2 separate regions of the Homo sapiens genome follow, and region 2 is linked to region 1. Evidence: fine-mapped expression QTL. A gene starts in region 1. The other region holds a variant in brackets. All regions are shown on one strand. Distances are between the middles of the regions. Region 1 holds the start of IFNLR1 (interferon lambda receptor 1). Region 2 overlaps CLIC4 (chloride intracellular channel 4).

The links. PIP is the estimated chance that this variant, and not a neighbour inherited with it, causes the effect.
Region 2: its variant is fine-mapped to the expression of IFNLR1 in testis (GTEx, PIP above 0.99).

Annotation. Positions count from the first base shown.
Region 1 is chr1:24,185,152-24,190,151 of GRCh38, forward strand. IFNLR1 (interferon lambda receptor 1) reads right to left here and starts at 2,138. Exons shown (of 7, transcript NM_170743.4): 1 at 2,040-2,138. The coding sequence starts at 2,097. RefSeq lists a silencer at 1,911-2,400.
Region 2 is chr1:24,808,985-24,814,508 of GRCh38, forward strand. CLIC4 (chloride intracellular channel 4) reads left to right here. Exons shown (of 6, transcript NM_013943.3): 3 at 5,110-5,235. Among named protein-coding and RNA genes, the nearest start is that of CLIC4, 66 kb to the left of the region's middle. The variant T/A (reference allele first, on the strand shown) is at 2,666.

The DNA.
Region 1 (5,000 bases):
TTCATTATAATAATTATAATCGTTACAGATGGGAAAACCAAGGCCCTCTCAGCTATTAAGTTGTAGAATCAGATTCAGTCCAGGCCTAGCCAACTCCAAAGTCCGAGCTCTTGACTGTACTTTGTCTTCTAGGTTCTCATGGGGTCTATTGAGCTTTATGATTCCAACTATTCCATCTATTGACCACTACGAGTCAAACAAGATCTGTTGACCACGGTGTGCCAGGGGTTTCAAAGAAGAACACAACTTCATTCCTGCCCTATAGGAGCTCATGGTCCCATGGAGAATTCAGGGTCCTGAAGTGTCCCATGTGCCATGATGGAAATCCATACGGGTTGCAAAATGGCATCAGGGAGGGAGGGTCCAGTTCTGTGGATGGCTGTCCCCAGCCTCGGCTGCCTACCCATCACCTTCTAGACCCAAAAGTGGGTGCCTGCTTCCACCTCATCCTGTGTCCTCTAGCTGGGACTGTATCACCACGAGGCTAGTGCTATTACTACTCCCAGCTTCTGGACTTCCTAACGGGTGACCAGCAGGAGACCAGGCTGTCTGCAAGCCACTTGTAAGGTATCCTATGGGCAGGACAGTCCCCAGATTCGAGCTAGGTCACATGAGAAAAACAGCAGTTAGAGCAACTTTCCTCTATGAAGCCTTCAAAGGATGCCAGGCACTAGTTTGGCTCTTTACATGTAAAACCTCAATCACCCTTGGGACAGACCACCCTATGGGGTAGGTGTCATTCATTCTGCTTCCATGGAAAGGGCGCTAGGCTCAGAGACAGATGCTAACTAACTTGCCTGAGGCTACACAGTCAGTTTGTGTGGGAGCCAGTATTTGAACTTAGATCTGGCTGTACTTACTCCTAAATCATCACACCATAGTTAGTGTTGTGTATATTAAATACTTATCAGGTGAAAGTACAAGAAGGTCTGGGTTTGACAGTGAAAGGGGAACAGAAGACCCCACCCTCCCTCCACACACAGGTACACGGTCCCTCATCAGCCACAGAGAACGCTGCTGTGGGCACTGGGGGCTGGAGCATCCCTGGCTGGCCTAGTGACCCAGTGGATGGACAGCCTGTCCCACGTGCCTACCCTGGAGGCAAAAGCTAGCCAGGCTTGCTTTAGCCCCTCTTCTCTCTTCTGTGTGCCTCACCTCTGCCATCCTTCTTGAGGAATTCCCTGAATTGCTCTGAGCCTCAGTTTTCCCATCGGAAAAGTAAAAATAATATCTACCTCCGAGGATGGCTGGGTCGTGAGGCTTCCAGAATAATGCGGTGCCTGGCACAAAGAAGTTGCTGAATAAATATAGGCTTTTATGATGATTGGATTATGCCCAGGGACCTTTACAGCTCTTTAAACTGTGAGTCCAAGACTAGGAAAATATCCTGGGGGCGATTTCTGGACCTTCTCTTCCCTGCTTCGGTTGGAGTCGTGGGCGGTGAGGTTTGGTGGTTGGGTCCTACGGCGAGGAATTTTGTACCTGACACCTTACTCATCAGTAGAGGTGGGAAAACAACAACAACAACAACAACAACAAAACAACAACAAAACAACAACCACCACCAAAAGAAAGCCGTCTTGTTAGAAAGCAGGGCACAGGCGACCAGAGCTCCGTCCCACCAGAGGCCTGGCAGGAACGGGAAGGGACATCAATCGGTCCCACTTTCCCTGCTGTCCACACTTTAGGGTCAAGTGTGGTTTTCACGCAGGGATCAGTGCTTTCTTTAGGAAACATTAAAAAGCACTTTATTAAAAAATATGCAGTATCAAACTGCCGCTGTCTTTTTTCTCCAGTTCTCCTGAAGCTGGAAGCATTAGGAAACTGGATTCGTTTCCTGCGGGAGAGGAATATCAAAGACCCGGTTCTGTTCAGTCCTGGGAAGAAGCAAACTGGGGGCGCGTAGGCAGGGCCGATTCGCACCCGGCTCGGGTGGCTGCGGACCCCGTGCCTGTCCCAGGAGCTCCGGGTCCGAGGGTAGGCGCGGCCCGGCCCGGGGAGCCCTCTTCCCCCTCCCTCCCGCGGCCCCGCGCCCTTACCTGGAGCGGCCTGCAGCAGGCACAGGAGCAGGGGGCCCCAGCGCTCGGGCCCCGCCATGGCCTTCCTGCCGCGGCGTCCCCGCCCGGGCCCAGGTCCCCGCCTCCCGCCTCCCGCCTCCCGTCTCCTAGCCCACCGCGGGCAGGTGACGCAGTCGGCAGCCAATGGCCCGCAGAGCCGCGGGCCCGTCCCTGCCGCCTAGGATTCACTGAGAAGGTCCCTGGGGACAGCCCCGCCGCGGGGGGAGGGGGGGGGGGGAGCGCGCCGGTCCCCGCGCTCGAAACTCGCCCGTACCTCTGCTTCATCTGCACTTAGTTTTGTTTTACTCAATTCCCGGAAAAAAAAATCAGTAAATCCGTGCACGGGGGAAGGGCAGGGGAGGGGAAGAAACCGGCTGATGATCAATAACCCACGGCCAGTCCAGTGCTCCAGGACGGGCCATTTTGGCAGGATTAGGGAGAGTTCAAGGCCGGTTTGGCTACGCGGCCTCAATGCCATTGGCGGGATCCGAGCGCGTTTCTGAGCCGGATGCTGAGCTCCGCGCCTTACACACGCGATTCCCTTTAATGCCCCCGGGGATCCCGGCGGATCCGTGCTGCCCTTCTCCACGTACTTCTCTCCCGGGGAGCGGCAGGCCCCAGAGCTTCAGGTGCTTGTTCTGGGGAAAGCTGTCTTTCTGACCCCGAAGGCTGTGGTGTTCACCTGGACAGCAGTAGCTTCCCAGTAAGGCACACGCCACGACGCGCAATATTATGCGGCCCTTTAGGAGGACGTTGCCGAATGGTGTGTATCGACACCGAGGTGTTTGCAACACACTGAGAAACAGAAAAGCGAGTGCTAAAACATAGGCCCATTAAAAAAGTGTGTGTGTAGCCGGGCGCGGTGGCTCACGCCTGTAATCCCAGCACTTTGGGAGGGTGAGGCGGGTGGATCGCCTGAGGTCAGGAGTTGGAGACAAGCCTGGCCAACATGGTGAAACCCCGTCTCTACTAAAAATACAGAAAATCAGCCGGGCGTGGTGGCATTCACCTGTAATCCCAGCTATCAGGGAGGCTGAGGCAGGAGAATCGCTTGAACCCAGGAGGCGGAGGTTGCAGTGAGCCGAGATCGCGCCACTGCACTCCAGCCTGGGCGACAGAGTGAAACTCAGTTTCAAAAAAAAAAAAAAAAGTGTGTGTGTGTGTGTGTGTGTGTGTGTGTGAGTCTGTCTGTATGCATAGAAAGATATTTGGAATAATAATTACCAAAATATTAATGGTTGTTGTCTTTGGGTGATGAGGATTTTCTTTTTCAACTTTCTTCTTTTCTGATCATATTTCGTTTCCAATTTTTTGATAATTATTTGAAACTGGGATCAGCTTTGGTCCCATCAGTTTTTGGAAGAGAAAATGATTTTCACAGAGCTTGGTGGGTCCAAAAGTTGCTCTGAGTTTAACCGCGGGGGAAATTTCTTTTGGAAATTTCAGGATGCTTCTGGGACTAGCATCAAGGCTTCTGCTTAATCAGGATTTTTTTTCTTTTTTTTTTTTTAGACAAAAGCTCTGTCGCCCAGGCTGGAATGCAATAGTGTGATCTTGGCTCACTGCAACCCCGCCTCCTGGGTTCAAGCTATTTTCTCACTTCAGCCTCCCAAGTAGTTGGGATTACAGGCACCTGCCATCATGCTCAGCTAATTTTTGTAGAGATGGGGTTTCACCATGTTGGGCAGGCTGGTCTTGAACTCCTGACCTCAGGTGACCTCAGCCTCCCAAAGTGCTGGGATTACAGGCATGAGCCACTGTGCCTGGCCTTAATTAGGATCTCTTAACAAAGCCCTGCTCACAGAGGACGCAATTCCACCTCAAAGGCGCAGGGTGGAGGAGGATGGAAGAGCAGCAGGCACGGTCAGTGTTGGTATCTTGGGATCTCTGAAATGTTGACTGTTGACTTTCTTTTCTCCTTCCTTCCTTCCTTTCTCTCTCTTTCTTTCTTTCTTTCTTTCTTTCTTTCTTTCTTTCTTTCTTTCTTTCCTTCCTTCCTTCCTTCCTTCCTTCCTTCCTTCCTTCTTTTTTCTCTCTCTTTCCTTCTTTCTTGCTTTCTTATTTTCTTGCTTTCTTTTTTTTTGACAAGAGTCTCACTCTGTCACCCAGGCTGGAGTGCAGTAGCGTGATCATGGTTCACTGCAACCTCTACCTACTGGTTCAAGCGATTCTCATGCCGCAGCCTGCCAAGTAGCTGGGACTACAGGCGTAAGCCACCATGCCCAGCTAATTTGTGTATTTTTAGTAAAGACGGGGTTTCGCCATGTTGGCCAGGCTAATCTCGAACTCCTGGCCTCAAGTGATCTGCCCACCTCGGCCTTCCAAAGTGCTGGGATTATAGGCATGAGCCATGCACCCGGCCCTGAAATGTTGACTTTCATTTCCACCCAGCAACTGCAACTCTTTTAGACCCGGAATCCCACTGTGCTTGGAGCGGTTCAACAGCAGGTACAGAAATATCTTCATTTGCCACCTGCTCCACCCATGGGCTCCTGTGCTATGCATCTGAAACTGGCACTTGCTCTTTTTTGACAATTTGTTTGTCACATGTTTGTTCTCTTGTTCCTCTTCCCCCACCTCCCCGCCCACGCATAGCTTCGAGTTAGAAAATTGTGTGTTCAGATGCCTTGATCCTTCAAGAGACATTTTGTGACTATGAGCTTGGCCAAGTTGGATCTTTCAAAACCTTAAAAAAAATGTCATCTATAGATGCCGGTCAGAAAATCTCAGCCAGTTACCACGACCTTGCTTCTACTTAGGTCCTAAATACACTGCTTCAATTTCTTTCAGGTATCTCAAATACAATCCATCCATTCTGGAATAAAATGAATATATCTCTATTGATATCTCTTTATCCCAAACAGCTGACTGCACGAATCTTTATTGAGTCTTTGTTATATAGTGGCACTGCAGTTTACATACAGTATTTAATCTTCACAACAA
Region 2 (5,524 bases), 620 kb after region 1:
AAATATTTTTGATCCTCAGTTGGTTGAATCCACAGATGCTGAACCCATGAATAAGGAGGGCTGACTTATTTCATTTTGTGAAAAACTTGAGCTTGTCAGACTAAAGAATGTTCAGTGAAAGCATCAGAGTTGAAAATCAAATCAGGTTTTGACTTTTAAAAGTCCTCTTTTGGAGGTTAGGTTCTTACAGAAGTTGATAGGAAATATGTCTTATTTTTCTTTGTTTAGGAAGCAAGATAGGCTCTAGAACTTGGACTTTGAGTTAAAAATTTTAAATTAATGAGATAATTAAATAAATCTTTGTTTCTTTGGTTGGAATGTAGTCATAGAAACCTGAGGCTTTCTAACCTAAATTGAAAGATGGAGCCAGAGAGAGAATATGAATAAGACCAAGGGAAATTGATAGATTATAAACTGGTTATAGATTTTTGATTCCCCTCTATCTTGAAAATTCTGATGACGAAGTATTTCACTTTCATGATATATTTAAAAATACTATTTTTGGAGACAGAGTCTCACTCTGTCGCCCAGGCTGAAGTGCAGTGGTGCAATCTCAGCTCACTGTAACCTCCGCCTTCCAGCAATTCTGCCTCAGCCTCCCGAGTAGCTGGGACTATAGGCATGCACTACTACACCCAGCTAATTTTTATATTTTTAGTAGAGATGGGGTTTCATCATGTTGCCCAGGTTGGTCTCAAACTCCTGACCTCAGGTGATCCACCCGCTTCGGCCTCACAAAGTGCTGGGATTACAAGCATGAGCCACCATGCCCAGCCAATATTCTTTATTTTATTCAAATTCTGTGCATTTATGGTCAGGAAGGAAGGAAGAAGGAAGGCAGGCAGGCTAACTTAATAACAAGATAAACAGCTCTGGGCTATAATAGGAGGCAGAAACATTCTTTGAAACTATATGTTGTTGTATTACTTTTCTTGAAGTACACATTTTTATGTTTGCTTTTATAATTATGAAAGTTTTCAAACATGCATAAGAATAGAATAAACTTCTCCGTAAACCCAATTCAGTTATCAAGATCTTGCCACATTTGCTTTGCCCCTTTTTTCTGATTTTCTTTGCTGAAATGTTTTAAAGTAAATGCTAGACATCATGTCGTTTCATCCCTACTTAATTCAGTGTATGTCTTCAAACAATGTGGACATTTTCTTCCCTAACCACAATGCTCTGATCTCCTGAAGTTCCTAGTATACAATTTGGGATTTCCCTGGTTATCTCTAAAATATCTTTTTATTTTTGGTTGGTTTGTTCAAATCAGTATCCAAGTAATTTCTACTTTTTATGTTTGATTGTTATATCTCTTAAGTTTTTCTTAATCTATAACAGTCCCCCACCTGTGTCTGGTAAAAATACCATTCAGCTGAAAGGTAGATTGTCCCAAATCCAGAATTTAGCAGTTGCTTCCTTGTGGTAGCATTTAACTTTGTCCTCTCATTTTCCCCCTCCCTGCATTTCCTGTAAATAATCTCAGGACCCCTTTGTACTCTTAAATTATTGAAGGCCTCAAACAGCTTTCAGTTATGTGGGTTATATCTACCTATTTTACTATATTAGAAATTAAAGTTGAGAAATTAGCCTAGGCAATATGGTGAGATCCTCATCTCTACAAAAAATTTTTTAAAAATTAGCTGGGCTTGATGGAGTGTGCCTCTGGTCCCAGCTGCTTGGGAGGCTGAGGTAGGAGAATTGCTTGAGCCTAGGAAATCAAGGCTGCAGGGAACCATGATTGTGACACTGCACTCCTGCTTTGGTGACTGGTCTCAAAAAAAAAAAATCCTGAGAAATTTTAAAAATGTTTATTTATGGCCGGGTACGGTGGCTCACACCTGTAATCCCAGCACTTTGGGAGGCCGAGGTGGGCGGATCATGAGGTCAGGAGACCATCCTGACTAACATGGTGAAACCCTGTCTCTACTAAAAAATACATCAAAAATTAGCTGGGCTTGGTGTGCGCCTGTAGTCCCAGCTACTTGGGAGGCTGAGGCAGGAGAATGGCGTGAACTTGGGAGATGGAGCTTGTAGTGAGCCGAGATCGCACCACTGCACTTCAGCCTGGGCGACAGAGTGAGACTCTGTCTCAGGAAAAAAAAAAAAAATCATTTACTAATTCATTAAATATAGAACAATAATGAACCCACTACTTATTACCATAAAACATTTTTAATGTAAAACAACTATATTTCCCAAAACAAAAAATAGTGAGAAGAGTGGCATTCTTTTACATTTTTGCACATCTTAGAAGAGGTTTCTCGTGTCTGCTTCTGCATTCATTACCTTGTGATATCTTGTACCAAGTAGCCAAGTAAATTTGGAAAATTTTACTATATGTGCACGAGAGGAGAATGAGAGTGAAAAAGGCAAATGATGCCTTAGTATTATAAGAATAGTTCTGACCTAATGGATCACCTGGTGAAAGGGTCTCCTGGCTTACAATTTGAGAAACAGCTGCCCCAGAGGCTGCTTTGTTTTGGTTTGTTGTTGTTGTTGTTTTGAGACAGGGTCTCACTCTGTTGCCCAGGCTGAAGTGCAGTGATATGATCACTGTTCACTGCAGCCTCGACCGCCTGGGCTCAACCAATCCTCCCATCTCAGCCTCCCAAGTAGCTGGGACTACAGGCACATGCCACCACACCCAGCTAATTAAAAAAAA[T/A]TTTTTTATAGAGATGGGATCTCACTATGTTGCCCAGGCTGGTCTCGCTTGAACTCCTGGACTCAAGCAATCCTCCTGCCTTGGCCTCTCAAAGTGCTAATGTTACAGGTATGAGCCACTGCACCCAGCCTGCCCCAGAGGCTTGATTAGATTCAGGGTCAACTTCTTTGGTAAGAATACTTCATGGTGCCATAGGAAACACACCATATCTGGTCATCTCATTTTTTGATCCTAAAATTCATTGGTGGGTTTGGGTGAGCCATTTTGCTTTTTTAACAAGATAGTACAAACACTTCTTGCTGTTAGTAGTTGTCAGCATAACAGTTTCACCATCTTTATCAGTGTTTTGTGGTGTTTTCAATTTTTCCTAATCAACAGGAGGAAGACATCTTATTGTTTACTTTTAAATTCCCTTTATAGTTGTGCTATTTTACATTTTTCTGTGTGTTCACTTGTTTTATCTGTCTCTCATCAATTTCTTTTGACCCATACCTATTTGATTTTTTTGATGACCTTTGGAATGAATTTGGACAAAATCCTTAGGTAATGTAGATTTTAAGCTTTTCTCACTCAGTACTTTGTCCATTCTTTGTTGCTTTTTACCCTTCATTATGCCATCTTTTATGTATTGAAGTAATTTTGATATTAGATAGTCTAATCTGGTGATCCTTTTCCTTGTCAAGCCTGGACTTCTAGAATAATGGGAAAGAAATAGCACCAGAATTTGGAATCTTTTGAAGTTGAAGATGACTGCAGGATTCAGCTGCTTTTCTCTTTTATTTTGCCAAAAAGAAAAAAAAAGGCCTAGGGAAGTCATGACTTACCCATCTTTACACAATTAGTTGGGGCCAGAGTTGAAACCAGACACTAACTCTCCAAAATCTTTTTTCCCTCCTCATTCTATCACTATCTCTAATGAGTGACTTAGTTAATTTGGAATGAGAATGATGGATTTTGTATTTTGGTTAAAAAAAAAATCAAAGCATTTTCTTACCATAAATTATGTATTTTGTGGAGGCTTGCTTCTTATTAGAATACTATTACAGCTATTATATCTAGTGGAAAAGTACTATTTCTTTCTTTTTTTTGAGACAGAGTATTGCTCTGTCACCAGGCTGGAGTGCAGTGGTGCGATCTTGGCTCACTGTAACCTCCGCCTCCCGGGTTCAAGTGGTTCTCCTTCCTCAGCCTCCCAAGTAGCTGGAACTACAGGTGCATGCCACCATGCCCAGCTAATTTTTATATTTTTAGCAGAGACGGAGTTTCACCATGTTGGCCAGGAGGGTCTCAATCTCTTGACCTCATGATCTGCCCACCTTGGCCTCCCAAAATGCTGGGATTAGAGGCGTGAGCCACCACACCTGGTTGAAAAATACCTTTCTTTCTTTCTTTCTTTCTTTTTTTTTTTTTTTAAGATGGAGTCTTGCTCTGTCGCCCAGGCTGGAGTGCTGTGGTGAGATCTCTGCTGACTGCAGCCTCTGCTTCCGGGATTCAAGCGATTCTCCTGCCTCAGCCTCCTGAGTAGCTGGGATTACAGGCACATGCCACCACGCCCAATTAACTTTTGTATTTTTAGTAGAGATGGGGTTTCACCATGTTGGTCAGGCTGGTCTCAAACTTCTGACCTCGTGATCCTCCTGCCTTGGCCTCCCAAAGTGCTGGGATTACAGCCGTGAGCCACCGTGCCCGGCTGAAAAATACCATTTCTTATTCAGTTTTATATACTTTAAATTTTAGAACCACTTTGATCTCTTTTCTTTTTCTTTTTCTCTTTTTCTTTTTCTTTTCTGACAGGGTTTTACTCTGTCACCTAGGCTGGAGTGCAGTGGTACATTCTCAGCTCACTGCAACCTCCGCCTCCCGGGTTCAAGTGATCCTCCTTCCTCAGCCTCCCAAGTAGCTGGAACTACAGGTGCGCACCACCATGCCCAGCTAATTTTTATATTTTTAGCAGAGATGGGGTTTCACCATGCTGGCCAAGCTGGTCTCAAACTCCTGACCTCAGGTGATCCACCCGCCTCGGCCTCCCAAAGGGCTGGGATTACAGACATGAGCCACCATGCCCGGACAATTTATTTATTTTCTTTTTGAGACAGGGTCTCTCTGTCGCCCAGGCTGGAGTGCAGTGGTGCGATCATGGCTCACTCCAGCCTCAACTTCCCAGGCTCAAGTGATCCTTCCACCTCAGCCTCCCTGGTAGCTGGTACTATAGACACGCACCACCATGCCTGGCTAATTTTTTATGTTTTGTGGAGACAGGATCTTACCATGTTGCCCAGGCTGGGTCTCAAACTCCTGGGCTAAGCAGTGTCCCACCTCAGCCTCCTGTAGTGCTACGACTACAGACGCAAGCCACCGTGCCTGGCCAACTTTGAGAATTTAAAGTATTATTGTTGTTTAAGAGTAAAAAATGATCTGATTTTGACCAATATTTTGCCCAACAGGAAGCCAGCAGACCTGCAGAACTTGGCTCCCGGGACCCACCCACCATTTATAACTTTCAACAGTGAAGTCAAAACGGATGTAAATAAGATTGAGGAATTTCTTGAAGAAGTCTTATGCCCTCCCAAGTGAGTATCAAGGAAAATACGTATGAAAATATTGTCACTTCTTTGAAGCTTGTGTTATTTGTCAGTAGAGATCTTTCTCGCAGCATTAATTTGGAATGACTAGGACTCTCTTCTATGTTTCTTATAATTAATGCTACACAGATATAAGAATTGGCTTCCAGCTAGGCCAATCAGCCATACTAAGAAAGGTGGGGATTTGTCTAAGCTGTAGAATATGTGGTAGAAACAGATTTGGGATGTGTCTGATAGGTCAGGAAAGACTGGTTATTTGTGGACTGTAGGTCTCAAA